2 separate regions of the Homo sapiens genome follow, and region 1 is linked to region 2. Evidence: fine-mapped expression QTL. Tissue or cell type: whole blood. Region 2 holds a variant in brackets; the other region holds the start of a gene. All regions are shown on one strand. Distances are between the middles of the regions. Region 1 holds the start of WDFY3 (WD repeat and FYVE domain containing 3). Region 2 overlaps WDFY3 (WD repeat and FYVE domain containing 3).

What was found.
Region 1: it holds the start of WDFY3, and the variant in region 2 is fine-mapped to the expression of WDFY3 in whole blood (TOPMed, PIP 0.94).

What each region holds. Positions count from the first base shown.
Region 1 is chr4:84,957,702-84,974,184 of GRCh38, forward strand. WDFY3 (WD repeat and FYVE domain containing 3) reads right to left here and starts at 8,989. Exons shown (of 68, transcript NM_014991.6): 1 at 8,508-8,989. WDFY3-AS2 (WDFY3 antisense RNA 2) reads left to right here and starts at 7,915. Exons shown (of 4, transcript NR_152775.1): 1 at 7,915-8,157; 2 at 12,024-12,175.
Region 2 is chr4:84,935,026-84,951,508 of GRCh38, forward strand. All of the region lies in intron 1 of WDFY3 (WD repeat and FYVE domain containing 3), which reads right to left. Among named protein-coding and RNA genes, the nearest start is that of WDFY3-AS2, 22 kb to the right of the region's middle. The variant C/T (reference allele first, on the strand shown) is at 8,917.

The DNA of each region.
Region 1 (16,483 bases), 23 kb after region 2:
ACTGCAGTCAAGTAAATAAATCAACTAGTACTTCCTTGTTCAACCAAATGAAACACATGAAGAAATATCATTAACTTATTTCTGGTGCTGGGCTTTTCACATTCTGCAGGACTCATGTTTCACAGTTTATAGAACTGATATTCTAGATCTATTAGTGTTACAGTTATTAAAGATTTGGGGGCCAAGTAATAAATTAACCTGAAAAAATTCCAACCAAAGAAAGAAAAACAGAAGTGTGAATGAGCCAAAACATTCTGCAATGAACTTTATTTATTTAACTTGGAGATAAATTATTTCCACATTTCTTTGCTACTGTATTTCTTTATTATTACATTTATTTATGGTGAAAGAATGCATCTCTAAGTATTTGGCATTTCTTGCGCATAAGATTAGTGGAAAGATAAGGCTGTCAGGAAACGTTAAGGGATTTTGGGTTCATTTAACCCATGGGTTTCAGGGAAGCAGTGGAAAAGGCAGAGGCTGGTACAGGAATGTGCACTCAATCATTTACCAAGTATTTACTGAGCACCTACTGTGTATAGCTCATTGCACCAGCACTAAATGCACAGTGGTCAGCAAAACAGATTCCATGTCCACATGAACTAGCAGTTGCTAAGCAATGTGGTTGGCATCTCCTACCCAGTTTTCAATGATTAATCCTATGTTTAAGCAGTTCTATAATTCAACAAACATTAATTCAATGAAATAAAAAATCAGAAGTTTTTTTTTAAAAAATTCCAGTTCCTCCCATCCAAGACCTCAGCCTAGGGTGGAGAGACAAATAAACCAGCTATTAAGTTTCATAATAGGAGTACAACCAAGAGTGCTAAGGGAACATCCAGGAGGGACAACCTAAGTACTATTCCAGGTAGAAAGAAAGGCTCAGAGGCAGGAGAGCTTGGCATACTTCAAAAGCTTCAAGTAGGAGACAGGAATGCATCTCTGCCATGCAGAGGATGCAATCTAGGCTCAAACACACTGAGCTCAGAAGTCAAAGTCCTAACACTGGCCTACCCAAGACTAATGACACCTCCATCACCTTGACCTCATGGTTCACCTCCTTCCAGCCAACCCCTTACTGTTCTGTGAATGTGCCAAGCACCCTGCTTCAGAGCCTCAGCACTTGCTCTTCTCTCAGTCCTACAATTCTCACTCCCTTGGCTGCCTCAAATCTCTTCTAATGGACCTTTACAGAGAGGCCTTCTGATTCAGACCTCTATAAATGGCAAACCCACCCATACTTTAGCACCCCAATGATTGTATGATGTCACTGACAGTTATAATAATATAGTATATAATGTACTATGTATTATAATAATTGACAATTATTGACAGTACAATTGACAATAGTAATACTTGTTATCTACTCCCCTCACCACTAGAATTTAAGCTCCCTGATATAGCGCTATCACCCAGCACTGTGCCTAACAGACAGCAGACACTCAAGTCTTTTTTTAAAAAATGAACAAATGAATGGCTGTCAGAGATGTGACTGGAGAAGCTGGAGCCAGGTTACAAAGAGTTTTTTATAGACTGCAACCCCATGTTTTAGCGCCTCTTTGATAATGACTTAAGATCTATTCAAGAATTTTAAGCAGAAAAAAAAAGGTATACTGGAAAGACCACAATTTCACATTTTAAAAAATTAAAACAAAAAACAATTCATTTTGGAAAGAGTGTGAGGGTAATCTATGAGAAGACGTGAGACTGCAGTTAAGTAGAATATTTAAAAGACCTCTCTAATACTTCAGCAGGGAAATACAGGCCCCAAAATTGTCTTCTGGCAGGTGGAGGTTGAAAATGATAAACATTTAGAAGATAAAAACAACTGGACCTGATGCTTAATTAAATGTGAGACGTGAGGAAGACTGAGGAGTGGATGATGACTGCCAGTCTCAATCTAGTGACAGAACAGGTGCTAACAGCATTTACTCAAGCTGAGGAGATAGGAGAAGAAAATACATTTTGGAAGAACGATTATGAGTTACATTTGGGCCATGCTGAGGTTGACATGCCTGTGTAAATATCTCAGCAGATATGTCTAAACCAGCAGTTGGACATATCCCAGCAAAAAATCAGTGGTTCAGATGTCATTAATACTTGTCACACAAACAAAACTTGATGAACTTCATGGCAGCAATAAAAATCAAATACACTTAACTAGGAATAAACATTACAGTATTAGATGAGAATTAGCCTAAATGTTAAAAAAGGAAGGCTATAATCTTATCTATATTAACGCTTCTTACAAGATCTGGGGATGAGTTCAAAGATAATATGATCGAATTATGTCAGTCTATGAATGTTAGAAATAAGCAAACTACCAAAAAATACCTCAATAGTATAGTAAATGTTTGTTTTTTTGGTTTTTACCCTAGTTTTACTTCCCATTAACCTTCCTAATTTCAACTGAGATTGGGTAGGGGCAATAAATGTAGGCTTTAGAGGCCTGTTATTTGAAAATAATATTCCTGATATGTTTGCTATTTGCATTTTCTCTCATCTCTGGATAACTGCACATTCTATTAATGCTACACAGCCACTTCCCCTAACTACTCAACCTCCAGATTTCTCAATGAAGACAATGCTTCCTCCTGGAAGTCCTTCCAAACTTTGAAGTCTGAGTTCCATGCCCACCCCACCTCCACACCATATGTACCTACCTACAGCATCCACACCTCACGTATGTGATACCCTATTCAACAGTCTCTTCCACTCAACTGTAAGCTCTATCATGATAAGGACCTTGAATACTACATGCACAAGACATTCGTGTATGTATACGAACAAATGTATGAATCAATGACTGAACAAATTATCTATTTTCCGTGAGAACTGTTGAGATGTTTAAACAAACATCTTTCATTATTACGGGGTACTCAAACTGTGAATATAGCTATTCTTATTTACAGTCTAACATGACTATGTATTTTACAAGGTACTCTTCTTATTTTAAAAAAAAGAAGGGGTCTCACTATGTTGCCCAGGCTGGTCTCGAATTTCTGAGCTCAAGCAATCCACCCACCTTGGCCTCCCAAAGTGCTGGGATTACAGATATGAGCCACTGCAACTGGCAGGTTACTCTTCTAAGGGTTTTATTTCATATCATCTTCTGAATGAATGATATCTTATTCCAACGGGGCAACCCAGTATTCTACTACTGAAAATTAAATGTTGATATGAGCTATGTGTAATTTAATCCTTTGTCCACACTAAAACTACGTGAAATTTCAAAGACAGATTTTGGCCAGGCACAGTAATCCCAGCACTTTTGGGAGGCCGAGGCGGGCGGATCACAAGGTCAGGAATTCGAGACCAGCCTGGCTAACATGGTGAAACCCTGTCTCTACTAAAAATGCAAAAATTAGCCGGGCGTGGTGGCGGATGCCTGTAATTCCAGCTACTCGGGTGGCTGAGGCAGGAGAATCGCTTGAACCCGAGAGGTGGAGGCTGCAGTGAGCTGAGATCATGCCACTGCACTCCAGCCTGGGTGACAAAAGCAAGACTCTGTCTCAAAAAAAAAAAAAAAAGATTTTGATACTGTGGTTTCAGAAAGAGTAGTAACTAACTTGACAGTCCTCAAGATTTTAAAATAAAGAACAATTCAATGAGTTTACAGAACTTGGTGAAATCCCATCAAAGCAAATTGTTGGCATACAGGGAGCCACAAAGAATCTTTTTTTCCCTTTAAGTCCAAGTAAAATTGAAAAAAAAAATTCTTTATGATAAATTTTTTAATTCTAATTTTCTAAACAAAGCTTTATCTACCTGTTTAAAATGGTTCATTTTTTAAATTGCTAACAGCTAAGCATTAGAATAATTCCCTAATGATTATTCCTTTACAAAAAGTAATTTTAACAACATGAAAGATGAGTGCACAGTAAAAACTCAACAAACAGCCTTTAAAGGCTGCAGCCTTCATAGTGAGATCATAACTGATGCCCAAGCTAAAGAAAATTATTTTTTTATAAATATCTATCATAAACTTTCTATACTGAGTCTAAACACTACTGAAAATAAGAGTAAAAAAATTTAAAGGAGATCACTACACATATAATAAATGGCTAAAGTTTTAATAACTGACAATACCAAGTGCTGATAAAGATGTAAAGCAACTGAAACTCTCAGATATTGCTGTAGGAATGTAAAATGATATCACCATTTAGGAAAACAATTCAGTAGTTCAATAAAAAGGTTACTGATATTAATAAATATACACTTATCCTAGGACTCAAAAATCCCACTCCTAGGTATTAACTCAAGAAAACTGAACATTTTTGTCCCTCACATAGACCTGTATGCAAATGTTTATAGCAGCTTTATTCATATTTGATCAAAACTAGAAACAACTCAAATGTCCATCAGTTTATGAATGGATGAACAAATTGTGTTACCCTGGTGTAAAACAATGTTACTCAACAAAAAAAGGAACTGTGCTGGAGCTGGCTGGTACCAGCTCATGGGAGCCCATTGTTAAATTTTCAGGAATTCTGTAAGCTGGTAGCTTAATTTAGGCCATAGTGACAGTGTTTACACTACAATGATTAGCGAATGCTATAAATCAGAGATTCTTTTTTTTTTTCTGAAGAGTATGTTGTTAAGACATTTCCCAGCACATCACTGAACAAAATACTGACACATGTAACAACTTAATAAATATCAAGCATTACGCTAAGTGCAAGGGAACACGAAAGGCTACATAATGTATAATTCCATTTATATATGCCAGACGAGATAAAACTTTAAGAGCATCAATTAAATTAACGGTTTTCAGGGGCTGGGAGTGTAGAGGTAGAGGACTGACTCATGACAGGGCATGAGTGAACTTTTTAGAGTAACGGAAACGTCCTTTTCTATGTCTTGACTGTGGTGGAGACTATCCAATTATAGACATTTGTTAAACTTTTACTTTCACTACATGTAAATTATGCTTCAATAAACATTACTCTAAAAAATTAAAGTAGGAGCCATTTCTTTTTTTTTTTTTTTTGAGATGGAGTCTCACTCTGTCACCCAGGTTGGAGTGCGGTGGCGCCATCTCAGCTCACTGCAACCTCCACCTCCCCAGTTCAAGCGATTCTCCTGCCTCAGCCTCCCGAGCATCTGGGACTACAGGTGCACACCACCAGGCCAAGCTAATTTTTGTATTTTTAGTAGACACGGGGATTCACCATATTGGCCAGGCTGGTCTTGAACTCCTGACCTCAGGTGATTCATCTGCCTCGGCCTCCCAAAGTGCTGGGATTACAGGTGTGAGCCACCATGCCCGGTCGCCATTTATTTCTTAATCATTTCATGGATGATAAATACACCACACACACCAAGGGGGAACTGGATTTATCAGTGTAAATATCAGGAAGGCAGATTTTGACTCGACATAAATAGAAATATAGATTTAAAATGTAAAAACAAACAAACAAAAAAACAAAAAAAAAAAAACGGCCTGGCACGGTGGCTCACGCCTGTAATACCAGCATTTTGGGAGACAGAGGCAGGCAGACCACTTGAGCTCAGGAGTTCAAGACTAGCTTGGCCAACAGGGTAAAACCCCGTCTCCACTAAAAATACAAAAATTAGCCAGGCGTGGTGGCGAGGGTCTATAGTCCCAGCTACTTGGGTGGCTGAGGCACGAGAATCTCTCGAAACCCGGGAGGCAGAAGTTGCAGTGAGCCCAGATGATGCCACTGCACTCCAGCCTGGGCAACACAGCAAGACTCCATCTCAAAAGAAAAAAAAAAAAAGGTCAAGAAAAAAAAAAGAAGAGGGGAAATTCGTAATCACAGGAAATACTAAAATCAGAGGTGGATGATCCTGCCAAAGATGCTGTAGAAATGACCCTAGTTCGGGTGTGATTTCAGACTAGCATCATTAACAGAGGTTAGTATCATTAAGATCTCTTCATACTGGGGGTCCAGGGCTCTAAAATCTTATGATATTGTATGCTATGATAATCTCAGATATACTTTGCAATTCTAACTAAAACATCAATTACTTATTTTAACATCAATCAAATGGTATTACCGATCAAAGTCTAGTATACCCTGTTTATGAATGCTGGCTCTAACTTCAGACAGTCTGGGTTCACATGTTGGCCCACCAGTGTTTGTATGACTTTAAAACAACTTGTTCTATTTCCCCATCTGTAAAATGGGATTAATATTTTCCTTCGATTTAAATGAGAATGTGTTAGAAACAACGTCTATGTGCTGAACTCTTAATCACAAACATTTCTTGGGCATAATCAGAAATGAAGGACATAAATCATCAAATGTAATTTAAAAATTTTAGCTTTCCAAATATGGAATATGTATTCTTTAATTTTATATCTAGAAGTTCATAATCTTTTACAGACCCATATCCTTTTGAGAATGTGATCACCCAACAGAGTCTTTATCTAGGAAAAAAGCAAATATATGCTATATTCTGCATATGATTTCTGGGAAGCCAAGGACCCTCAGAAGTATATGCATGAAATTAAGAAAGAAGCAGGGCATGGTGGCTCACATCTGTAATCCCAGCACTTAGAGAGGCTAAGGCAGGAGGATCACTTGAGGCCAGGAGTTCAAGATCAGCCTGAGCAACACAGGGAGACCCTCATCTCTACAAAAAATAGAAAAATTAGACAGGCATGGTGGCATGCACATGTAGTCCTAACTTCTTGGGAGGCTGTGGGAGAAGGATCACTCGGGCCCAGAAGTTCAAGGCTGCAGTGAACCGTGATCGTGCCACTACACCCCAGCCTGGGCAACAGGGCAAGACCCTGTCTCTAAAAAAAGAAATAAATAAATAAATTAAGAACAACTGATGTAAACTTTTAAAATTGCAAAGTTGAGCAGTGGAATTTAAGAATCTCTTCAAAGCAGAGAATCCAACTAATATTGAAATATACTGTCATTTACTTTTTCAAAAACAGATTATGCAAGAGTAGAACATTGTATTTTCTAACTTATCCCTCCTTTTTGGAGGTGATACAAATTTTTTGAAACATTTTTTTTTTTCTTTACAAAAATTGTTTTCTCTTTGTTGCCCAGGCTGGTCTCTAACTCCTGGCCTCAAGTGATCCCCCAGCCTTGGCCTCCCAAAGTGCTGGAATGACAGGCATGACCCACTGTGACCCACCAAAAGCATACATATATTTCAGATGAATCCATTTTAACTCATGGAAAGAAACTAGCAGTAGAAACCTCTTTCTAGCAGCTTGAGATAGAATGGTTCAAAGTATTAACATACTTTACTATTGCTCAAATATCATAGGAAGAGTTCTCAATTCTAATGCAATATATATTTTTAAACATAAAAACATACCAACCTAATTCCTATACTTAAGAGTCTCATGATAAAGTTTTATTTTTTTTAAAGTCGGATTTTTTTACTAGACTTATGCACTAATACAACATGTTTTTCTATAAATTAGCACATTTTTAGTTCTGTTTTATGTTATGTTTGTTACGTCGCCTGATAGTCGAAACCAGTTGTTCTCAACCTGCTACCAAATACCAACCTGGAAATATGCCACTATTTAAAAAGCCCGAAGAATAGGGTTTTGTTTTTCCTTTTTAATTGTTTGGTGTTCAAACTACATAGTAAACCAGTTGGCAACCATTACTGAACAAAAATAGTTTTTCGTATGCATGAGCACCATTTTCCAACAGAAAACACTTAACCATTTTTAAGGTACTGGAAGTCCATGCAAGGGTTCACATATGCAGTAAATATCCTTTCAATCTGGTTGTATCACATTGTTTCTGTGAAAGGAAGACCTGATATTGCAGATCTCACAATTAAATGGTAAAAATCAATGAAAAACTGCACCTGAGGCTCAAACACTAGCCAGATGGCCTTTGGTTGGAAAGGTCTCATCTGCTTCTTAAATCCCGCCGTAACTGTGAATGTTTGCGATGCCACCACATCCCCAGTACAAGAGAACTGGAGCATCTCTGGCTCCTTCCATAATCGAAGGGCTTCCAGCGTAGGGCGTAGGGGGAGAGGCCCGAAGCCCTGGAGACAGCGCCCGAGGGATGGAGGCCGCGCTCGGCTGCGCTCAGGTCCGGGTGGCTCCGGGAGCTGAGACCCCGCAGGATGCAGCGGGGGGGGGCCAGGGCCTGATCCCCTACCCCTGCGAGCCAGGGCCGCCTACGCCCCCACTGCTTCCCACAGGTAACGTCCAGCCCTCTCCTCCCCTATCCCCCGAAATATCCCGGTTCCGCTCCGCTCCGCTCGCCGCCCGTGACCCCGACCCCGACCCGTCCGCGACGGCGCCCTCCCCAGGAGGCAGCGGAGGACTAGGGCCAGGCCGCCCACCCTGGCGGCGGCGGCGGCTCCCGGCCAAGGCGGACCCTGGGGAGGACAGCAGCTGGGCCGCGGCCTGTCCCTAGGGGGAGCGGGCGCAGGGCCGCGAGTGGGCAGCGCCTCCGCCCCGCACGAACAAAGCGGCCAGGCGCGCCGGGCCGAGGCAGCACCGCCTCTCCGGGAGCGCGGGGGGCGGGGAGGATGGCGGGGGTACTCACCTGAGGGCCGGCGGAGGGCGCGGGCGGGACAGGCCCAGGAGACGGGACCGCGGCGGGCCGGGGCTCCGCGCCGAGGGCGCACGGGCTACGGGGAAGGGGCGACCGGCGCGACGTCCGCGGCGGGGCCCGGGAGCCCCGCGCCGCGGGCCGGGGGCCGGGGCCCGAGCTCGATTCTGCGGCCGCGAGGTATGGGAACCGGTCCGCCGGGCCAGGCAGCGGTGCTAGGCAGCAGGGGCAGCGACGCCGCCGCCTTTCCCTTCTCCTGCCCCCGTCCCTGCTCCGCCGCGTCCTCGTCCTCGCTGGGTCCCCGCCGCCGCCGCCTCAGCCTCGGCGCTCCTCGGGTTTCTTCTCTCCATCAAGGCCGGGCCGACCCGCAGGGACCATCCCGGAAAGTGAGGGGTTGTTGCCGTTTCCCGCAGCTGTTGGTGGCCATCTTTAATCCTCCTCCTCCTCCTGCTTTCTCCACCTCCCGCTGGCTGTCTGACTGACTGACTGGATCCTCCTCTTTCCCCTCCTGCTCCTCCTACTGAGCCGGCCGCAGAAATTGCAGCCGCTCAGCTTCTACCCCCTCCTGCCTTTCCTTCCTCTTTCCTTACTTCCTTCCCTTCCCTCGGCTTCCCGCTCTTGCCTCACTCTCAGCGGCTGCCTTCGCCCCTGTCTGCAGACAGCGCCGCTGGATGCTCCCAGCTGGACTTCAACCCCACTCCTCTCAGTCCCTCTCCCCACTGCCTTCCAGACGCGCCTCTTCCCCGCCCCGCGCCCCTCTCTCCTCTCCCACCCCTGCCCCTCTCCGCGGCGCTCACCCTCCTCAGTCCCAGTTTCTGAAAGGACTCAGCTGAGAAAGGACAACTGGGTTCCGCTTTCCTTAACCCTACACCCTTTAGCTGGATGCTGTCAGAGGCGATGGAGAAACGCAAAGGTGCGTTAATTTTACTCTAGCCAGAGTATAAAAGAACTGCCCACGCCAGCTATTGTACTACGCAGCTTCGAAACTCCTGCACGCTCTCCTGTGTGGCTCCCGTCCGTGATGGGACTGTAGTTGAGGAGCTCGGTCTCAAATGGTGCCTTCCGTCAGTGACCTTGAGTCGGTTGCCTAAGATTTTAGATTTTCCTTTTCCTTCCTGGGAGGGGCATTATTTATACCTTTGCAGTCCCACAAACAGTGTTTAGACCAAATAAGTATCCTTTAGTAAACCTAGAACTGCCAAGTGATCATCATTTTGCCCGTTTGTTCCTACTCAACCCAGCAGACAATTTGGGTCACGCTTCAGTTCTGGCAGTAAAGACAAACTGAGTCAGCAGTTAGGAGTGGACTCCCTTAAACAACAGAGTTAGAGTGGGGAAGTGGTCATAACATCGCTGTAATCACAAACTTGTTTTTCCTAACACTGCAATCTACAGAAGTTTCAGGATTTCCTCTAATAAACATAAGGCAAGTTGGATTTGCTGTTTTCTTCTTTTTGACGATTTTGCCTTTAGAGTTGGACCCATTTGTAATGATTTACTCGTCAATTACTCCAAGATAACAAAGTTGGAGGTAACATTGCTAACAAACACAGGTGATATATATGAGCACTTTGTGGGGGGGGGGTGTCACAGTTTTTCTTCTGTGGGGCACTGGCTATTAAAAAAAAAAAACACCTTGCCCTTTCAAAATAAGACTAGTGTGTTCAAAGGTTAGTCCCTTAAACAGACCAAATGTGGGCAGAAATGTTTTTAAATGTAGTTTTAGATTCTACTTCAAAATGAGTAATGTTTTGAAAGTTCAAATATAAGATTTTGTAATTATAACAATTTAAGAGTTTCAAATCTCTTTGAAAAGAATATGCCAAAACAAACCTAAAAATATATTTTAGTAAAAATACCGGTATCCTTTGGTGGGGGGCGGAGCAGAATTCTAATATTTAATCCTCACGAAGTAACCTTAATTAACTGTTAGGTTCAAGATTTCAGTTGCCATCTTTCAATGCCAATAATTTTTCCATTTGAAATCAACAACCTATACTAACATCTACAACTCTTTTAAACCCAAATAAAGTATTTGAGACAGCATTGTACAATACGTTTTGAAATAAATTATTAAAAACAAAGCACCTATGTGGGGGTGTGTGTGTGCATATGCATGTACATGTACTTTTTTTGTTCTTTCCCTTTGGCCTTTTGGTGTTTATTCTTTATTTAGATTTTGTGTTCTTCCAGTCTATTTCTAGGCAAAATACCACAAAATTCTTGACTCTTAAATATTCACTTATAAAACTGTATGTATAATAATTGGAGAAAAAAGAACGTTAGATAACATGAATATACACTGCGAAAATAGGCTGACTTCTTTTAAACATTAAGACCACCATGCATTTTTAAAGGAAGATTTTCAGTTAGAGGTTTCAGGACTCTTGTCATTGTGATTTTATTTACACTGAGGGAGGAAGAGTTACATTTTAAAATACTATAATTATATTTTTCTGTTAAAACATATATTGCAATAAAGTTCACAAATCTATCAGTATGCAAAAGCAGCCGTTTTCATATTAATGTCTTACAAACTCACAAAGGTTTTTCAGTGATAGACATAAAAATAAATGTACCAAGTTTTTTTTTTCTTTTTTACTGAAGCCACATAAACGTAAGTACTGTAATAATGGAAAAATCAGACCCTTCACATTTACTTTTTTACAGCTCTGTCATCATTACAGCCTTTAGTCTTTGTTGCTGGCTAACTGTAGTTTCACTGTCATCTTAGGAATCAAGTACGAAAAAAAAATGATCAAATCAGGTTTTCCTGCAACATGATTATTGTTTCATATGTATTCACTCTCAGATAAAGTCAAGGTCCTCTATAAAACAAAGAATTGTGTTAAAGTGGGATAAACCCTTTGTGCAGAGGCCAGATGGAAAGAGATCTAGGCATGTGCAGCAAACTCCTCTGGGAATAGAGGAGCAAGCATGAAGGGCTATTTCTAAACAGTTCTGCACTGGGAGGCTGATCTCCAACTTACAATTCATGAATAAGGTGACTGTGGAGAATGATAACCAAGAGGCTATCTGTGACAATAAGCAAACAACCCATATTTGCTTTTAACATGATTGAAAATTCTATGAACATGAATGAGTGAAACATAATTTTAAAGGAAGGAAAATGGAGATAAAAGGTTCATGAAAAATATCTAAAAGTAAGAGGAAGAAAAAATAATAGAAAACAGCAATTTTGGAAAATTGTTAAATAATACATATTAACAGTTTGCTATTTAAACAATTATTTTCTTTATGTTAACTTTTTGTTAACATGTTTGCTTTTAAGACTATACAGGAAATAATTTAAACTTGGTCAGGTAGCATTATCCCAGAGATGAGCATATGTAATTTATAGAATTTTGAGATATTTATTCCAGAACATAGAGTGCTAAATGATGCTGGGACACAAAAATCAAAAAGAATGGAAGTGTTAATTGACATATTTAAAAATTACTGAGCCACTATATTACATATTATATTAAATATACATTTCCATTTTTCCAGGCTACTAGACGCAACAATAGAATTACCATATTGTTTTTCCTGGTTTGAAAGGACCAGATGGAAAGAAACTGGGCAAGCCAATGAAAGTCTCTGGGGATCATGGGAATTGAGTGTCTATGAAAACCATATTCCAGACAAGAATATAGTCTAAGGTAAATGTTCTCATAATCTCCATTCTTTAGAAAAGACAATATTTCTGTTCTGCATCTTCCTCTTTAGGTGGACTGTCAAAAATATCAATTGAATAATGACAAGCCATATTTATCTGCACTGATTGAAATTTAGTATCATTCTTCACTCCTCAATTTATAGAACTACTTATAATTAACTGATGAGCTGTCCCTGAGACAGTGCCATTTATAGTCATTACTGCACTCTAATTGGGGAGAAATGCTTTTAGAAAGTTCTAATTAGAGATTTTTTCTGTTGTTTTTCTTATAAATACATTCAAAAGAGGTATTGGAGAGTTTGTTTTGTTTTGGGAAGAGGCATGTGTGTAGCTCGATGTATTGTTTCTCTTTATACTTAAGTAAGTAATATGTAATAAAGCTTCTTTAAACTTTAAAGAGTAACAGGCTCACAGGAGGAAACAGAATAGTATCACGTTTTGCCCTTGTTCATCATAATTATCAGCATTATAATAGAGATGGGGGATTGAAGACTTTTGTTATTAATAAATTCTATTTCTACTTAAAGTTAAAGGTCCTCTTCATTTTCAGTTCCTTTATGTTTCTCTATGGAGAGTTCAGACTTTTAAAACCAGTATATTTACAATGTTTTTACAAGATAAATACACTTCACCCTTGAACAACACAGGTTTGAAATATGCAAATCCACTTCTATGTAGATTTTCTGCCACCTTGGCCACCCCCCTGAGACATCAAGAACAACTCTTTCTCTTCCTCCCCTTCTCAGCTTATTCAACCTGAAGATGATGAGGATGAAAACCTTTATGATGATCCTTCTCCACTTAATGAATAATAAATATATTTTCTCTTCTTCATGATTTTCTTAATAGCATTTTCTTTTCTCTGCCTTTATTGTAAAGATAAGTAATACATATACAAAATATATGTGAATCAGCTTTATGTTATCAGTAAGGCTTCTGGTCAACAGTAGACTATTAGTAGTTAAGTTTTTGGGGATTCAAATATTACACACAGATTTTCAACTGCACAGCAGCCAGGGAGGGCAACAGCACTCCTAACCCTGGCGTTGTTCAAGGGTCGACTGTATAGTAGTATACACATTGAGCATATTTCACTCATTAAAAATTCTGGTGAAAAATTATTCAAATGGCTCACTATAGATCATCTAGTGCAAACTTTGTAGCAATTTGAATGAAATCCAGGTCTCCTGACTCAGTCTCAAGTCCCATAACTTCAGAGTTGACAGGGCTCATCTTAGAGGAGAGAAACTCAACCAAAGAAACTTTTAACTGTGCCATCTTCAGTTAAATATAATTTAAACTTAATTTCCAGAATTAATGTTCAGCGTTGACCTTTCTTAGAAATAAAGCTAAGGAATAAAGTAAATAAACAGGGTTTTCCTGTTTACAAAAATGAGAGCAATTGTTTGCAATTAATGTAAAAAGCAAATTTAAAGATAGCTTAAGAAAGCTCAAGTTGACTAAAAAATGTGCGATTTTTAAAAACCTAAAACAACTCCTATAACATTTATTTATGGTTCAAAAAGTATAAAGTTAACTCAAAAATACTGTGTTATTTCATGGATTAAGTTAAAAGTGAGTGTTGCAAGACTCAGGAAACAAACCTCAGTTAGCTAAATAAAGTAAAACACTGCCATCTGCTGACTAGAATGAAAAATTAGTTGGTCTTTTACCATCTGTAACCAGCGAGAGGTCTGTTAATTTATTCCATAATTCTTTAAAGTATGCTAAAAAGCACTATGCTGGGTGATACAAAATTACTCAGTCTCCTAGATGGACACCTAGGACTATATCCTATGCTACTGTATTAGTTAGGGTTCTCCAGAGAGACCAAACCAATAAAATATAGATACAGATACAGGAGAGGGGATTTATTAGAATTGGCTTATGCAATTATGAAGGCTGAGAAGTCCCACAACAGGCCATCTGCAAGCTAGAGACCCTGGGGTGCCAGTAGCGTGGCTCATTCCAAGTATGTAGGCCTGAGAACCCAGAGGGGAGCTGGTGTGAGTCCTGGTATCCAAAGGCTGGAGAGCCTGGCATTCTCATGTCCAGGGGCAGAAGAGTGTATCCCGACTTCAGGACAGAGAGACCAATTCACTTTTCCTCTGTTTTGTTCTATCTGGGCCTCCAGCTGATTGGATGATGCCCACCCACATTGAGGGTGAATCTTCCCCACTTAGTCCACTGAGACTCACGCTCCAATTGCCTCTAGAAACACCCTTACAGACACACCCCAAAATTATGCTTTATCACTTCGCTATATATTCATTAATTCAGTCAGGTCAATACCTAAAATTAATCATCACAACTAGCATGTGGTGGTGGTTGTTATCATTATTCAAACAGGTAATTCTGACCATAATTAGTAATGCAGCAATAATAGGGCTTAAATGTAAATGAGGAAATAAAGTTATTATTTGGAAATTTTGAATATAGAAAAATTTTACATTAAAACTTACTTAAGGCTGGGTGCAGTGGCTCACACCTGTAATTCCAGCACTTTCAGAGGCCAAGGCACACAGATCACTTGAGGTCAGGAGTTTGAGACGAGCCTGGCCAACATGGTGAAAACCCGTCTCTACTAAAAATACAAAAATTAGCTGGGTGTGGTGACGGGCACCTGTAATTCCAGCTGAGGCTGAGGCAGGAGAATCACATGAACCTGGGAGGCGGAGGTTGCAGCGAGCCAAGCCGAGACTGCATCATTGCACTCCAGCCTGGGCCACGGAGTGAGACTCTGTCTAAAAAAAAAGGACATTTAAATTGTATAACTACAGTAAAAATAATTTGGAAAATAAAATAATGTAAAGTTTAAGTCATGACCTAATTACTTCACTCTGCAAATATTTGAGTGATTGCTGTGCCAGAAACTAGATTGCCTGCAAGAGATATAATAAAAACCTACTGTCCACCTTTATGGAGCTCACAGTCTAGAGAAAGATATCAACCAGGAATGATAATGTCTTAAGAACTATAACAAGATGGTACAGGAGTACCTCCTGCTGCTCCAGTGGGGCACACAAATTATTATCAACACATATAAATTACAGTCTAATAAGTATTTGCTCCTGTCCTCAATTACTATAAATAATCCTTGGGCTTATTCAAGAACTGTATTTTGAGCTTTCCATCTGAGTGGAGTTTTTGTTGTATTGCTTTACTCAGAAACCTCAAAAGGTTTATAACACTTCAATTTCTCCCGTTCCCTGCATCAAATCCATTACCAATGATTGCCAATTTTACTTCCAAATAACTCTCAAACATGAACACCTCTTCCCATTTTCTCTGGCACTACCCTAGTCTCATATTTTCAACTGAGATAACCTTTTATCTAGTCTACCCACAGTCACTTGAATCTCTTCCAATCCATTGTTTCCATTTACAGATTTTCAGTGGTTCTTAGGACCTGGCATAGTTGGCCAACCATCCACCTCTCGAATGTCGACATGATCCATAATTTAATGCACTTCCTCTACTGCTATTACCCTGGCATGTTCAGTCCCTTCTCCTTGACATGCTCCCTTCGCCACATGGCCTTTGCACAATCGATTACCTGCCTCTATTCTTCATCTACTTTAACGATGTCTTCACTGAACTAAGTCACAAATCCCACCATTAAATTTTTCATAGAACCACTCAATTTTCCTTCATAGCACTAATCACAGATGCAGTTTTATAGTTTTTTATGTTATGTGGTTTATGCCTATAAATTCAGTGAGGACAATGACTGTGTTTTGGCTCTTTATTGGTCCAGTTTTGGTACTACCATTTTACATTATAAAATTATTCCACATCATGGTAGAGAAGTTTTGAATCAAGCAATTGACACCTATCATAACTTAACAAAGTACACACATTTAAGGAATGAATAAAATATGCTGGATTATTGATGATTCCAAACACATTTAATTTATATTTTTTTCCTGTTTATTTCATGTGTTATGACAAGACTAGAAAACATGTTTGTTTCCTTTAACACTGGCTACTGGACCCTGCTCTCCTAATCAGAATGTGTGCTAATTTGAGGGCACTCTATCCTCAAGGCAATGTCATATTTGAGGAGCAACTGTGAATGAAGTCAAACATTGACCTAGTTTTTTTTGAGATCTTCTCTATCACTGCAATATTTTGTGTTTCCTCTTTTGCTCTTCCTTATCTCTTGACATTTCTGCCACCATTATATAATCTTTAAAAATCAAGTTCCTTTTTTGCTGTTGTGCTTTTGAAACTTCCAGATAATGGGATGGGGTAGAGGGACACAATAACAAACAAAATAACCAAGCACAAA
Region 2 (16,483 bases):
CCCAACGTTGTTGCATATAGTTGTAGTTCATTCATTTTCACTGCAGAATAATACTGCATTGTACAAATATATCACAATTTAATTATCCGTTCTCTTGTCAATAGCTTATTTTCCCCTCCAAGTTTTGTTTTGCTATTATGAACATTTATGTTATGAAAGTTCTGACATGTGTCATGTTCCACATGTGTCCGAGTTTCTCTTAAGTACATGCCTAAGAGTTAGGGAGTAATCTTAAATTTAACTTTTCATGATGATGCCAATTTTTACTTTCCCTAAAGTGTGTTTGGCAATTTATAACTTCACTACCAAAAGGTAGTAGCAGAACTACCACATCTACAGCCTCTCCAACGTGTAGTAATGCCAACTTTTTAATGCTGGGTATAGAATGGCATCTAATTGTGGTCTTAGTTCGCACTTCCTTGTCAATTAATGATGCTGAGTATTTCTTCATGTTTCTTGGCTATCTCATATTTTCTCTCGTATGAAATGCCTATTCATATATTTTACCCATTTTCCTCCTGACTTATTTGCCATTTTCATATTGTTTCATGTGTATTTTATATGTATTTGGATGCCCATTACTTGGTTTTACCAGTCTTGACCAAAAACAGGCAATTGTTGAGATAAGGGAGCAGAAGCAAAAATAGCAGGCGGCCAGAAAACTGGCAACAGCAAGTTAGAGTACCAATGATTTCCTCAACCCATTTTTTAATATAAATGTAATCTACAGACATCTTAAAGTATCAGAAATCTAAAATATTATAAAATCAATCTAGATTTACAATCTTTCATTTTAATATAAACTCAGCCAAGAACAAATGCTACAAAATGATTTCAGTACATTCTAACTACAATATGTAATATAGTATAATTCTCAGGAATCAAGTTTTACACAGGTCACAATTAAGACCACAATTTAAAGTTCCCATTTTGACCCTGACATTTTACATATTTTTACTTCATGCTTTCCTTGCCTCCAATTTAGAGTAAGTCAGTTACATTGTCAGAGGATTAAGTTTAAATGTATATGCACATATGTATAAAAACTAAATTTTGAAATTAAACTGTGTACATTGAAATGCCACAGAAACCTGAATTCCAGACTTAGCTAGATGATTAGCTATATCTCCCTGGCCTATCTATGTCTTCTGAGTTGGTTTTCTTATATTAATACTTAAAATGGAAATTGTGCTGGGTCTTATCATACTCTTTGGGTGGGGAGTGGTGGCTCACGCCTGTAATCTCAGCTCTTTGTGAGGCTGAGGCAGGACTATCACTTGAGAACAGCAGTTTGATACCACACTGGGCAACATAGTGAGACCCCATCTCTACAAAAAATTTAAAAATTAGCTGGGCATGGTGGCAAACACCTGTAGTCCTAGGTACTTAGGAGTCTGAGGCAGGAGGATCACTTAAGTCCAGGAGATTGAGGCCACAGTGAGCTATGAACGTGCCACTGCCCTTCAGCCTGGGTGACATAGCAAGACCCTGTCTCTTTTAAAAAAAATTATTTGGCTTGAAGATCAATGAGAAAATTTTTTTCCAAATAGCCCAGAAAGATTTTGTGGAGTCTCTTTCCAAACTTTATACAAAGTAGCCAGTTAAACTAAATAATAACAAAAAATAAATTTTCAAAATTTTTAACAAGCAGTTTTAGAGTCCTCCTAAGGCCTCCCAGGACTCCTGCCAGGTAATCTGATGAAATGCATCATACAAGAAAAAAAAAATTCAAAAGCCACAGGCAATCAGAAGAGAACTTCCAGAATCTCTCATGACATTTACCTCCCCACCTGAATCTGTACCCTTTCACTGAATTTCAGGATTCACATCAAAATCTAACCCCTCTACTTTGCTACTAGATGTTACATGCCTAGAACACCAATGTCATTGCTCTAGGAAATCCCACTTCTCTCTCCTACGTCATCAATTTCCTCCTTCCAATAAAGCAAAATCACTGGCAAATACATTTCCAATCATTAGAAAACAAACAACAAAACCTCTCGACTCCTTATATGCCTCTAGATGATGGCCAATATCTTTGATTCCTTTTTTAGCAAAACATCACAAGCTTGTACTCCTTGTCTACAATTATACTTCCATTCAAATTTAACACACTCCAATTAGACTTTTACTACACAACATCACTGAAATTCAAGGTCATCAATTACCTGAATATTGTTAAATCCAAAGGCCTATTAGTTCTCATCTTTCTTGACTTATCTGCAGCATTTGGCATGACATATCACATGCTGATACACTTTCTTTTATTGGCTTCCAGAACCAACTCTATTGGTTTCATCCTATCTCATCGACCTCTCCTTGTCAGCGTTCTTTCCTAGTTCCTCCTCTTCTCCCTGACCTTTAAAGTTTAGGTTGTTAGCCTTCTTCTCTAACCCACTGGCAAGTACTATTGACTTTATCTACAAAAATACTGAGAATCTGACCACTTCTCGCCACTTGCATAGTTACTATTTTGGTCAAAGTCTGTATTGTCCCTCACTTGGATTTTTGCCATAGGTTAGTAACTGGTCTCCCAACTTCTACCCTTGTCCTATTTTCAAGTCCTTTCTCATCGAAGTAGCCAGAGTGATCCAGACAACCTAACATAAATCATAAATCGTATAACATCTGCTCCCAAAATCTCCCAGTGGCTTCCCATCTCACTCAGAGTAGGCCATTTTTTTAAAAAATGACATAAAAGAACCTATAAAATTTGGCCCCTATTACCCCTGACTTCATTTCCTACCAACTTCCTTGCCATTCTTTTTACAGGCCAGGCACATCCTTGCCTTGGGGCCTTTATACTTGCTATTCTCTCCCTATATGCTTTTCCAAGAGATGATTACAGTAGACCCTTCCTTATCTGTGTGGGTTGGGGGTTGGATATGTTCCAAGACCCCCAGTACATTTTTCCCCATGCATATATACCTGTGATAAAATTTAATTTATAAATTAGGCATAGTACTCTTATGCTTTGGGGCCATTATTAAGTAAAATAAGGGTTATTTGGATATAAGCACTGCGATACTCTGACAGGTGTATTTCCCTTCTATTCCTATTTGTCTATGTCCTTCCATGAAAATGTAAAATCTATGAGGGCAATGGTTTTGTTTAGTTTAATGCTACAGCTCCAATGCCTAAAAAAGAATCTGGCACATAGCAGGCATCCAATTAACATTTTTTAAAATAAATAAACAGTTACTCTCTTAAGGCTAAAAATGGGAATCTTTCCTAGTTTATAAAACAAGATAATCTAAATAATTGGGGGACAACAACTAGATTTTTGATGTAAAAGAATCATTCTAAAATTTCTTCAAAAGATAATTGATAATGATGATAACCTCAAAATATTTTATTAGACATTGTAACTGATACTTCCATAAATTTGATAAATTAACAAATAGTTCCCCTTATTATTAGGTTTTAGACTCTGGCCGTCCACAGAATGACTCATTTCTTTCCCACTAACTGCTGTCATATTTAACAATGGTTGGCATGCAGGGCCGTAACACCAGCACACAGGAAAATATTACAAAAATGTTCATTCCAAACTGGTTCCAGAGAAAGAACCAAGCTCTTTATAAATGAGGAAAGTCTAAAAATAAAGGGCAGATATTTTTAAATGTTTTCAATATTTTGTTTGAAAATAATTCCAAACTTACAGAAAAGTTAGTAAAAATACAAAAATCACTCATACTCAGATTCAGCCATTACTAATGTCACCTCTTTACTTTTACATTTGTGCTCCTGAGCTTTTACACTTTCTTGCATTCATACACACACATGCACACATACACTTTTTTTCCTGGAGCAAATGAGAATAAACTATATACATCAAGCCCTTTCCTCCTCTTCTTCCAATGTGTGTTTCTTTAGCAATACTTTCTCTTATAAGGAAAGCACAGTGATCAACTTCAGTAATTATAACATTGTTACAATATTTTTATCTATTCTATGGTCTATATTCCAATATTCTAATTTTTCAATTGATCCAATAACATCCTGCATGGTATATTTTCCCCCATTCAGTATAAGATCCAGTCTAGGGTCAGGTACTGTTAGTGGTTCTCTCTTCTATGCCTCCTTTAATTTGGAACACTTCCATAGCCTTTCTTTCTCTTTTATGACACTGACTTTTTTAAGGACCACAGTTCCCTCCCCGCTTTTTAAAGTAGAACATTCCTTATTTTGCACTTGTCGAATGTTTCCTCGTGATTAAATTCAGGTTATGCAGTCTTGGCCAGAATACTACAGAGGAGATGATGTGTCCCCTCAGGGTGTCCTATCTGGAGTCACATGGTGACCATCTGCCCCATATTGTTGTTGGATCGCACCAATGCATAATCACTATATTATCCCTTGCAATTAGTACACAGTCTGTGGGGTGATGCTTTAAGACATCGAAAATATCCTGCTTCTCATCAAAATTTCTCCCTCATTTAGTTATGACTCTTGCCCTACCTAATATCTACTACGCTAGCTACAAAATAATGATTTTTCCAACTCTAAAGCTCAGAGTCCTACTGGAAGAAAGAGCCTTCCTTTCTCCTCTATTCATTCACTTATTTTTATTATCATTATGGATTTATTCCTATTTCTAATGGTTCATAATTTATTATTATACTTACTTGATTATTAAATTATCTCAAATTTGGCTAGCAGGAATGCCAATAGGCTTCTTGTGACATGTTCTTATTTAAAAAAAAAAAGTTTCTATTTTCTCGCATTGAAAAATAATCCAGGCTCACATGGTATGTGCCCTACCCTATCCTAGAATCATCTATTTCTGTGAGGAGCTCTGGTTCCTTTGACTTGAGAATGGTATTACAGAATTCTAATTCCAAGAATTTGGAGTTAGGTATGCTCTTTGCCTCTTAGCCCTTTTACTGGACAGAGCTAGGAAATGTATGAATGCAAATACACATACAAATTTATGTACATATGTCTGTACATGCAATTACATGTACATATATATTGGCTTAAAACATCATGAACTCACTGATACCTTCAATTCCAATCCACCTGCACAGAATTTATTATGCCTTCTCCCACCCCATATTTGTGTGTCTCTCCTTCTTCAGGGAGAACCCTCACTCCAACAACCTCAAAACATTTACTCAATCCCCAATACACCTAAAAAGTCCCAGAAGTGCTATGTCCATATCACTATGAAAAGTAAACCTAATAGAATGAGTTCAAGAGTTGCCTGCAACCCGTCTCTTTCAACTCTACCCAAGCTGACGGTATATGGTTATAGTTATAGCACCATGTTATTAGTAATAAATTACTTAGATTTACTCTTTGTTCCCTCAATGGGGGTACAATACTAATTTAAAATACATTCAGGTTCATTTGTTTCAGTGGATTAGGATTCTCCCCATTTCCGTCCTTATTTTGAATACTGAAAAAAACACACTATGAAAAGCCAAAACTATATTTTTTAAAAAAAGGTTTACTTTGAAGTGTCATTGCCTCCCATAAACCTCTGGCCCCATTACCTCTCACTACCCCTTCTTTTTGTAAAGTCAAGCATATATATGTATGTGTTATTTTCCCTTTTTTCTTACATAAAAGATAGCACACTATATATTCTTGTTTATACTAACCAGCACAATCCAGATTGAAGAAAGCTCTTCCCAAAGCCTTTTATAAGATACAATATCCTGATATCAAAACCAGACAAAGAGATTAAGAGAAAAAAAGACTAGAAATTTCATATTTTTTGTGAACATAAATGCAAAAACTTTTAACAAAATATAAGGAAACCAAATCTGGCAACATATAAAAGGGGTATTACATCATGATGAAGTGCATTTATCCTGGAAATGCCAGGCTAATTCAATATTCAAAAAATTAACATAATTTACCATTATCAATAAAATAAAGATTAAAAACCATATAATCTCAATAGATATTTTAAAAATCACTTGCAAAATTCAACATCTATTAATGATAAAAGCTCTACTAAACCAGGAATAGAATGAAACTTACTCAACCTGATAAACAGCCTCTTTAAAACAGATATAGCTAACATCATGTTTAATGAAGAAAGACTGAATGCTTTCTCTTTTTAACATATACTAGAAATCCTAGCCAGTGCAATAAGGCATGAAAAATAAATAAAAGGCAAAAATGGAATGGAAGAAGTAAAACTGTCTTTATTCCAGGCAGCATGATTATATATATAGATAGAAAACCCCAAAGAGTCTACCAAAGAAACCTCCCTAAGTTAATAAGGGAACTTGGCAAGACTGCAGTATACAAAGTTCAATATACAAAAATCAATTGTGTTTCTACATATTAACAATGAAACAACTAAAAGTTATAGATAAAGAGATAGATAGATAGATAGATAGTACCATTTATAATAGCACCCAAAACACATGAAATGCTGAGGAGTAATTCTAACAAACTGTGCAAAATCTGTCTACTGAAAACTATAAAACAATGATGAAATAATCACTAATGAGATAATCATTGATAACAATGATGAAATAAACCAAAGATGACTTAAGTAAATAGAGAGATACTCTATGTTCATGGATTTGGAGGCAATATATTCAAGGAATCAGTTCTTCCCATATTTACCTATAGATTCAATGCAATCCCAATCAAAATTAGAGTAGACTTTCGTTTTTGGAAATCAACAAGATGACTCTAAAATTTACACAAAAAAGAAATCAAGAATAGTCAAAACGATTTGGAAACAAAACAAAATTGGAGGACTCATATTACCTGATTTCAAGACTTACTAAAAAGCTACAGTAATCAAGATAGTGTGGCAGTGGTAAAAGCACCTAGATCAATGGAAAAGGACAGAAATTCCAGAAACAGATACACACAAACATGGTCAATTGATTTTTGACAAAGATGTCAAGCAATTTAATAGGGAAGGAAAAATTTTTCACTAGCCAGTGCTACAGTAATCAGATATCCACAACCCAAAAATAAATAAATAAATAAATAAAACTCACAAAAACTTCAGTCAACCCACACATCACACACTATATACAAAATTTAACTCAAACCAAATCACAGACATAAATGTACAATCTAAAACTATAAAACTTCCAGAGGAAAACTTCGGGGAAAATCATTGTTACTTTGAGTTAGGCAAAAAATTCTCTAACAGGATATAAAAAGTAAAAACTATAAAAGAAAAAAATGGGCAAAGTGGACATCACCAAAATTAATTTCTGCTCTTCAAAACACAGTGTTATAAAAATGAAATTAAGCCAAAAACTGGGAGAAAGTATTTGTAAAACACATACCAGACTGGAACCCAAAATATATAATGAATTCTTTAAACAATAAAAAAAAAGCAAACTGATTTTAAAAAGAATAAAAGATGTCGACACTTACTTTTAAAAAAAGGATACATACAGCAAACAAGCAATGAAAGCTCACTACCATTATTTATGAAAAGCAAATTAAAACATTTTGAATGCTGCTATGAACATTAGCCTTTTTGTGGACATGTGCTTTCATTTCTTTTATAGATATACTTAGGAATGGAATTTATAGATCCTAATGAATATGTTTGAATTTATGAGACACTAGTTGACTGTTTGCTAAAATGGCTATACCATTTCACCAGGAATGAATGAGAAGAAACTTCTAGTTGCTGCATATCCTTACCAAACTTAACATCATCAGATTTTACATGCATTTGTCATTCACATATCCTCGGTAAAATATCTGTTCAAATTATTTGTTCATTTTTCGACAGGGTTCTTTGTCTTCTTATTATTGAATTGTGAGAGTTCTTTATATATTCTGGTTCATATCCTTTGCCAAGTATGTATATGTTTTGCAAGTATATTTACCAGTCTGTGGCTAACCTTTTTATTTTTTTTTAAATGGTGAAGCATGTTCATTTTGAGAAATTTCATTAAGCTTCAACTTACAATTTGTTTACTTTTACTTACGTATATACAGTAAACTTGAACAACATGGGTTTGAACTGTGTTGTCCAATTATATGTGGATTTTCTTCTGCCTCTGCCACATCAGACAAGATCAACTACTCCTCTCTTCCTCCTCCTCTTCGGCCAACTCAGTGTGAAGACAATGAGGATGAACACCTTTATGATGACCCACTTCCACTTAATGAACAGTAAATATATTTTCTCTTCCTTATGATTTTCTTAATGTCATTTTCTTTTAACTAACTTTCCTGTAAGAATACAGTATATGGCTGGGTGTGGTGGCTCACACCTGTAATCCAAGCACTTTGGGAGGCCGAGGCGGGCGGATCACAAGGTCAGGAGATCGAGACCATCCTGGCTAACACCCAGTGAAACCCCATCTCTACTAAGAATACAAAAAAACTAGCTGGGCGTGGTGGTGGGCACCTGTAGTCCCAGCTACTCAGGAGGCTGAGGCAGGAGAATGGCGTGAACCAGGGAGGCGGAGCTTGCAGTGAGCCGAGATCACACCACTGCACTCCAGCCTGGGCGACAGAGCAAGACTCCGTCTCAGAAAAAAAAAAGAATACAGTATATAATACATATAACCCACAAGATGTGTATAAATCGACGGTTTATGTTATCAGTAACACTATCAGTAATTAAGTTTTGGGGAAACCAAAAAAGTTATATGCAGATCAACTACACAGGAGGTCACTTCCCCTAGCCCCAACATGGTTCAAAGATCAACTGTACTTGAATAAATTTATTGAAAAACAAAACAAAACAAAAAAAACTGCTCTTTAAAGGTGACAAAATCATCATCAACTAGTAAATAGCCTAAGGGTGATACAATTTGGCCTACACATACTAAAAACTGGAAAATAAGTCTTTACACTACCAGTCATGAGCCATTCATTGTGTTGGGTCCCTACCAGAGGCACAGACATAAAGTCTAAAATTAGCAAGGAAGAGTAACTGTTGAAGGCCTCCCTCTTCCAATTTGACCT[C/T]TGAATTATAAACATTCCAGATTAGGATATATGGCACTTTTGTTAATTATAGAGCAAATTTTAAATGGAAACTTTAGGTTGATGGGGAAAGCAAAGAAATTCAACTTAAGTATAATTACATGAAAAACTAACTCGTGTAATGATTTTCAATAAGCACCTGATTGTCAAATACATATGCTAAAACAAACAATAAGACTCTAAATATCTTTTCGCTGACTGAATAAATAGCTTTATATAAGTATTATTTATTAGTCTTTAATTATTCCAAAATTATCACTCCTAACTTTAAGAAGCAAAAATCAGCCAGGCATGGTGGCTCATGCCTGTAATCCCAGAACTCTGGGAGGCTGAGGGGGATGGATCACTTGAGCTCAGGAGTTCAAGACCAGCCTCTACAAACCCATTCTCTACGAAAAAAATTAAAATAAAAAATACAAAAAATTAGCTGGGCATGGTGGCGCACACCTGTAGTACCAGTTACTTGGAAGGTTGAGGTGGGAGAATCACTTGAACCTTGAGGGAGGAGACTGCAGTGAGCCAAGATCTTGCCACTGTACTCCAGCCTGGGCGAGAGTCAGACCGTGTATCAAAAAATAAACAGGCTGGGTGCAGTGGCTCATGCCTGTAATCCCAGCACTTTGTGGGGCTGTGGCGGATGGATCATCTGAGGTCAAGAGTTCAAGGCCAGCCTGGTCAACATGGTGAAACAACGTCTCTACTAAAAATACAAAAAATTAGCCAGGCATGGTGGCTAAGACAGGAGAATTGCTTGAACCTGGGAGGCAGGTTGCAGTGAGCCGAGATCACGCCACTGCACTCCAGCCTGGGCAACAGAGTGAGACTTCCTCTCAAAAAAATAAATAAAAATAAATAAATAAATAATACATATAGTCACTGGATGTGGCTGAAAGTCTTAAGTTTTGGGAACTTATAGAATATATTATTACTTCTGTAGTAGACACTTCCTGGAGTAGCTGGAAAGCTTATAATCCTTCCCTTTTCTGTGTCATGATCAATGGCCTTGAAAAGATCAAAAGATAAAAAAGAGGGAGATTCTCAGAATAGCTACTTGAATGAACCTCTCACAACAGGGTCACAGCCTAAAAAAATTCCTGTCCCATGTGTATGTTCACCAGAATTCTGCTAACAAATCAAAATACAAAGCCTCTTAGTAATTGAGTGGATAAGATGACCCACATCACAGACCAACTCATACTCCTCCAGCCAGCCTGGTCCTTGCTCAATAGGTTCATGAAAACCACCAGGTGGAAGGAGAAGCAGTTATGCAAGGGCAAATCTGCACGAACTCATTAAGACTGATGTCACTGTCACTACTGTTGAGAACACATTTGCCTGAGTCCCCCAAAGAGAGACTACTTCTTAGCAGGTAAATTATAACAAACCCTTTGCATTACAGAAATGGTGATGGCTGCTTTTCACTATAAGAAACACCAATTCTGAATTTGTCTCTGCCAGCACCACCATTCAAGATTAAGTGAATGCTTCATATAAATCACACTCACAGGGCCTCTGATCCAGGAACTCACTTCAAATGGTGATGGGCAGATGCCCAGGGACCTCACTAGTCTTATCAAATAGACTCTTATTCAGACACAGCTGTCCTCACAGAGGAGTAATGGCATTTTGAAGCTTGACATGCAAGTTGTTGCGCCACCTGAAACCTTCTGATATTGGGGTGCTGTCCTATAGTACATAAAATAAGCTCTGAACCACCCACTAATATATGATGTCTCCCATCCTCCCATCTCCGGAACACACTGGATGTGGGAACGTGGTGATGGTGGAGGTGGTATATTTCATCTGCTTTCAAAGTTCTGCTTCTTGTCTCAAGAACTCTGGAATCTGTTGATCTAGAAATTTTATTTAGTACCCAAGAATGAAATACTTATACCAAGAAACAAAATAACTGTTTCACTCAATTGAAAGCAGAGTTTTATTTCCTCATAACAATAAAAAAACAAGCAAAAATGGAGGCTATAGAATTGACAGAGGTGACTGCTCCTGACCATCAAGGAGAAGACAGGTTGCTACTGCACACCTGGGGCTAGGAAGATCATGAGAAAAGAACTTGGGGGAATCTCATATTCTCTGGCAGTGCCGTACACAGTGTTAATGTGAGTGAAAGATTATCACAATTCTATACAGTTGGAACTACCAAACCTCAGACCCTTTTGGGAATGAAGGACTGAGTTAGCTTCCTAGAAACAGAACCCTGATAAGCCAGGACACTAGCAGAAGGTAACAGAAATATGTAATCTGAAGTGAAACAGGTTAGGGCTTTGTGCTCAGATGTAAAACTAAGGACTGTGGCCACCATTTATTTCCTTAATAGTCACTGGTGTGTGATAAGTACCCTTCTCTTTCCCTTTAAATACATTTTCTCTTTATTTCCTCTTCCTTTCCCTCAAGCATGCAGATGGCAAGTTGGCAGGAGTTAAATTTAGGTTGTAAAATATCAAGAAAGAATCACAATGGAACCAGGAGGCAGCATGATATCACTCAGAGTCAGTAGCCCTATGGCACTGCCTCTGGATATGGTACTTCAACTTGCTTTTTGCTTTTCTCCCACTGGAAAAACTGCATCAATACATGGGATAGCAGGGTTATCTCTACTAGTGGGGAGGAAAGCAAAGGGAAAGAGACAGGAAAAGCAGTGGTTAAGCTACCAAAGAGTGAGATGTTCTAGACACCTAGGAGGGCTGCCCAGCTTTTGACTTCCCCTTCTTTGGGAATGACCCCCAGCACCGAGGTATATTCCTAGCGCGCTATACATCATAAGTCTGCATACCCTGGCTCTAGTACAGACAGACACCTGATCTGAACGAGGTTAATTTAATCCTTTCATTTTTTGTTTTTTTTTTTGAGACAGAGTCTCGCTCTGTTGCCCAGGCTGGAGTGCAGTGGCGTGATCTCCGCTCACTGCAAGCTCTGCCTCCCAGGTTCATGCCATTCTCCCGCCTCAGCCTCCCTAGTAGCTAGGACTACAGGCACCTGCCACCACGCCTGGCTAATTTTTTTGTATTTTTAGTAGATACGGAGTTTCACTGTGTTAGCCAGGATGGTCTCGATCTCCTGACCTTGTGATCCACCCGCCTCGGCCTCCCAAAGTGCTGGGATTACAGGCGTGAGCCACCGTGCCCGGCCAATTTAATCCTTTCTTGATGGAATATATAAATTGAAGATGCAAGGCAGAGAGAGACTAAATCTTTACAGCAAAGTCACCTTAATAGCAGGAGTCTAGGAAGAAGGTATAAAAATTCCTGCTAGGGGCCGGGCACAGTGACTTATGCCTGTAATCCTAGCACTTTGGGAAGCCGAGGCGGGCGGATCACGAGGTCAGGAGATGGAGACCATCCTGGCTAACATGGTGAAACCTCAGCTCTACTAAAAATACAAAAAATTGGCCAGGTGTGGTGGCACGGGCCTGTAGTCCCAGCTACTCGGGAGGCTGAGGCAGGAGAATCGCTTGAACTCGGGAGGTGGAGGTTGCAGTGAGCCAAGATTGTGCCACTGCACTCCGGCCTGGGCAAAAGAGCGAGAATCCGTCTCAAAAATAATAATAATAATAATAATAATAATAAAAATAATAAATAAATAAAATAAAATAAAATAAAAATTCCTGCTAGGCTGGGCGCAGTGGCTCACACGTGTAAACCCAGCACTTTGGGAAGCCAAGGCAGTCAAGATCGCTTGAGTCCAGGAGTTCAAGACCAGCCTGAGCAACATATCAAAAAACCCCACATCTACCAAAAAAAAAAAAAAAAAAAACATTAGCCAGGCATGGTGGCATGTGCCTGAAGTCCCAGCTACTCAGGGGCTTAAGGAGGGAGGACCACTTACTTGAGCCTGGAAGGTAAAGGCTGTAGTGAGTCATAATCATGCCACTGTACTCCAGCCTAGATGAAAGAGTGAGACCCTGTCTCAAAAGTAAATAAATAAATAAATAAATAAAATTCCTGCTAATGAGATCCTCAAAGCAACTCTGATATCTTCTGTTCAAGACCCACTTGTTCAATCCATCATTCCATTCCCAGTATGAGTCCCATTAATTCCTTTTCCCCTCCTCAAGCTAGTAAGTGTCAACTGACTGCAACCAAAAAAATGCTACTATAACTTTTTATAGGAAGTAAATGAAAGGTGTGGAGGTTCTCATTTTAAGGTCAATTTATCATAATCATGCATTTTCCTTGCTTCCTCTTATCCAACTCAGAAAATAAATTCCTAAAGGGTAATTTTGCCTTCCAAAGTGTGACATGAGAACCCTCATGCCTAACATGCTTTTTCATATCCTCCTATTTCACAAGAAAGCATATTTACTTCAGTGTGTAAGTTTGTTCATTTTAGCAGCAGTTCCCTGTTAAGACGTTAGTATGAGGCATCAGCAGTTCTTTGCATCTCGTGATGCCATACCAATGCCAATAAAGCAGACTAAATGATTACTGATCAACAATACTTAATAGTATATAGAAAAAAAAAGATACTTAGTAGTTCATCAAAGAATGTCAAGCCCAGCCTGTCTCTGCTCTCCAAGTGCCTGGCTTCGCCTGTCACTTAAATCCTAGATCACCAATACGGACTTGTGATAGAAGATGTTTTTGCAGTTTCGCCCCAATCTTTAATTCTGGATCAAGTCATCACTAACATTACCCAGCCTTCATACTGCAGATTAGATAGTTAGGATTTCTAGCTCGTTATGATGCCTACCCTGTTCTACTCCTTCCCCTTCTGCTGTCCTTTTCCTGTTTATAGCTCAGCTATTATAACTAAGCTTCTGCTTAGACACTTTTGGAGGTCCCTAGTCTGATCCCTTCCTGGCTTTTCTCTTCCTAGGACTGAGCAGTCTACTTTAAATTCCCAATCCCAAGGACTGATAGCTAGAGTCCAGTACCCACAGACAGAATTATCTGGTGGCCACTCATACATATATAAGCATGTATGTTTGCATTCATTTCGTCATTTACACACACACACCCTCCTATTTCAGATTCCATATGCTTCTTCCCCTTGAATTCCCATTAATAGGTTGACTGAATTATTCTCTGGCTGTTTACCCCTGGCACGGCCTACCAAAAAGAACTTTTCCTCAGCGCCTGTAGTTAGTTAAGGTTAGATTGACCTTAACATGCAGCACTATACCTTAAATGTGGACTGATTCTAGTCTGTCCTGCATAATAGTTACCTCTGCCCTACTCTACAACTTGGCCATGTGCTCCCATATCACAAATACAACAAAGCTCTATCAAATTTTGAGATATGGAAAAGGTAAGCAAGCTCACAGAATTTTAAAACAGAAAATATACAAAAGAAAAAAGTTATTTTCTAAATGGCATAAGCTGGAAACTTGGCAGTATAGTACAATTAAAACAATAACATAATATAGGAAAGAATCCCACACATTTACACGCCCAAATTTATTTTTCAATCACCAGATAAATTTTAAAATAGGAGAAATGACAATGACTACATTACATTTTGTAAATATGTTCTAGATTATAGCATATTGAAAAGGCCATCTGATTCCCAAGAGTTCTAGAAGCAATTTCTTAATGCAAAACTTAAGGTATATCAGAGCAATGAAAGAGTATATATATCTAGTCACATAAATCAGTGCCTCTTCTGAACAATGCTGAATTCTTCTCTATGAAACTTATTCAATTTCTAATTCTCTTTAGTGCCAAAAAATGGGACTCCTATCACTTTCTCCAAAATCTACTTTTGTTATTAATATTACACCTTCATTAAAGTTGTTTCCTCTGCTTTCTCTACAACCTTGATTCCTAGCTAAAGATCAAGCCACAGATGGGATCACCGCCAAAAAAACTACCAAGTAGTCGAAAACTCAAGGACAAAAGTAAATATATTTACCTCAGGCCCCTTATAAGCCAACAGAACTGCAGTAAGAACAAGTGCAGTAGATAATAAAGAATTCTAAATACTGTGGCTAAGGTGGGAAGCCAATGACATCTCAAAAATAGATGCTGTTCGCGTATGTTTATTGCAGCACTATTCACAATAGCAAAGACTTGGAACCAACCCAAATGTCCACTGATGATAGACTGGATAAAGAAAATGTGGCACATATACACCATGGAATACTATGCAGCCATAAAAAAGAATGAGTTCATGTGCTTTGCAGGGACATGGATGAAGCTGGAAAACATCACTCTCAGCAAACTAACACAGGAACAGAAAACCAAACACCACATGTTCTCATTCATAAGTGGGAGTTGAACAATGAGAACACATGGACACAGAGAGGGGAACATCACACATTGGGAGCTATCGGGGGTTGGGGGGCAAGGGGAGGGAGAGCATTAGGACAAATCCCTAATGCATGAGGGGTTTAAAACCTAGATGATGGGTTAATAGGTGCAGCAAACCACCATGGCACATGTATACCTATGTAACAAACCTGCATGTTGTGCACACATATCCCAGAACTTAAAGTTTAATAAAAAAAAAAAAAGGTTACATTATTTAATATAGGCTAAACTAGTATATGAACTCTTTGAAAGAAGTAATAGCATCTCATCATCTTAATAATTTTAGGCGGGCAAGGTGGCTCACACCTGTAATCTCAGCACTTTGGGAGGCCAAGGCGGGTGGATCATGATGTTAGGAGATCGAGACCATCCTGATTAACACGGTGAAACCCCGTCTCTATTAAAATACAAAAACTTAGCCTGGCATGGTGGCATGCGCCTGTAGTCCCAGCTACTTGGGAGGCTGAGGCAGGAGAATCGTTTGAACCCAGGAGGCGGAGGCTGCAGTGAGCGGAGATAGCATCACTGCACTCCAGCCTGGGCAACAGAGGGAGACTCCAACTCAAAAAAGAAAAATAGTTTCAGCACACAAAGTAGACACTGAATAAACACACTGAATGAAAAAGTAAATCAAGAGTTGAGATGGTTAGTAAAGTGTCAAATGTACTCAGCTTATACTGCAATACAATCACTGCAGAATGTCAATTACTAGGGAGGGCCTTACCCTAAGGAGACAAAGTGTAATGTAAGTGCTGAGAAACTCACTTTTTCCAAAAACTACTCCCTATTCATTAATAAACACAATGCAAAATGCATCTCACATTGGAGATTAATTTCATGTACTCTTTCCCTCTTGCCAGGCAATTATTTACCTCTATTCTAATTTTATATTCCTATGACCCTTTCCTCACAGGATGCTTAATATTTATCTTTTAAAAGTCCATTTTATTACTTGTTTATTTGAATAGGAATTCTCTGTATTTCGGGCATCCGGGAATGAGTTACTGGTCAACATGTTTATCTTCTATTTTCTTCGTTTGTTTTTATCATATTTTTTCCATCAACATGAACATACAAAAATCTTCAAAACTGCTGTTCACAGACATGCTTTCCTTTGTAACAGAAGTCACAGTGGGTTGAACTCTCATGAAGAAAACAGATTATCTGATGCCAGAGCAGTCTTTACTAATTTAATTACTTTACCATCTTTAAAAATTTTAAATAAAAATACAATTTGTATTGATCCTTTAAATGATAACAGATGATGTAATATAAAAAATCTA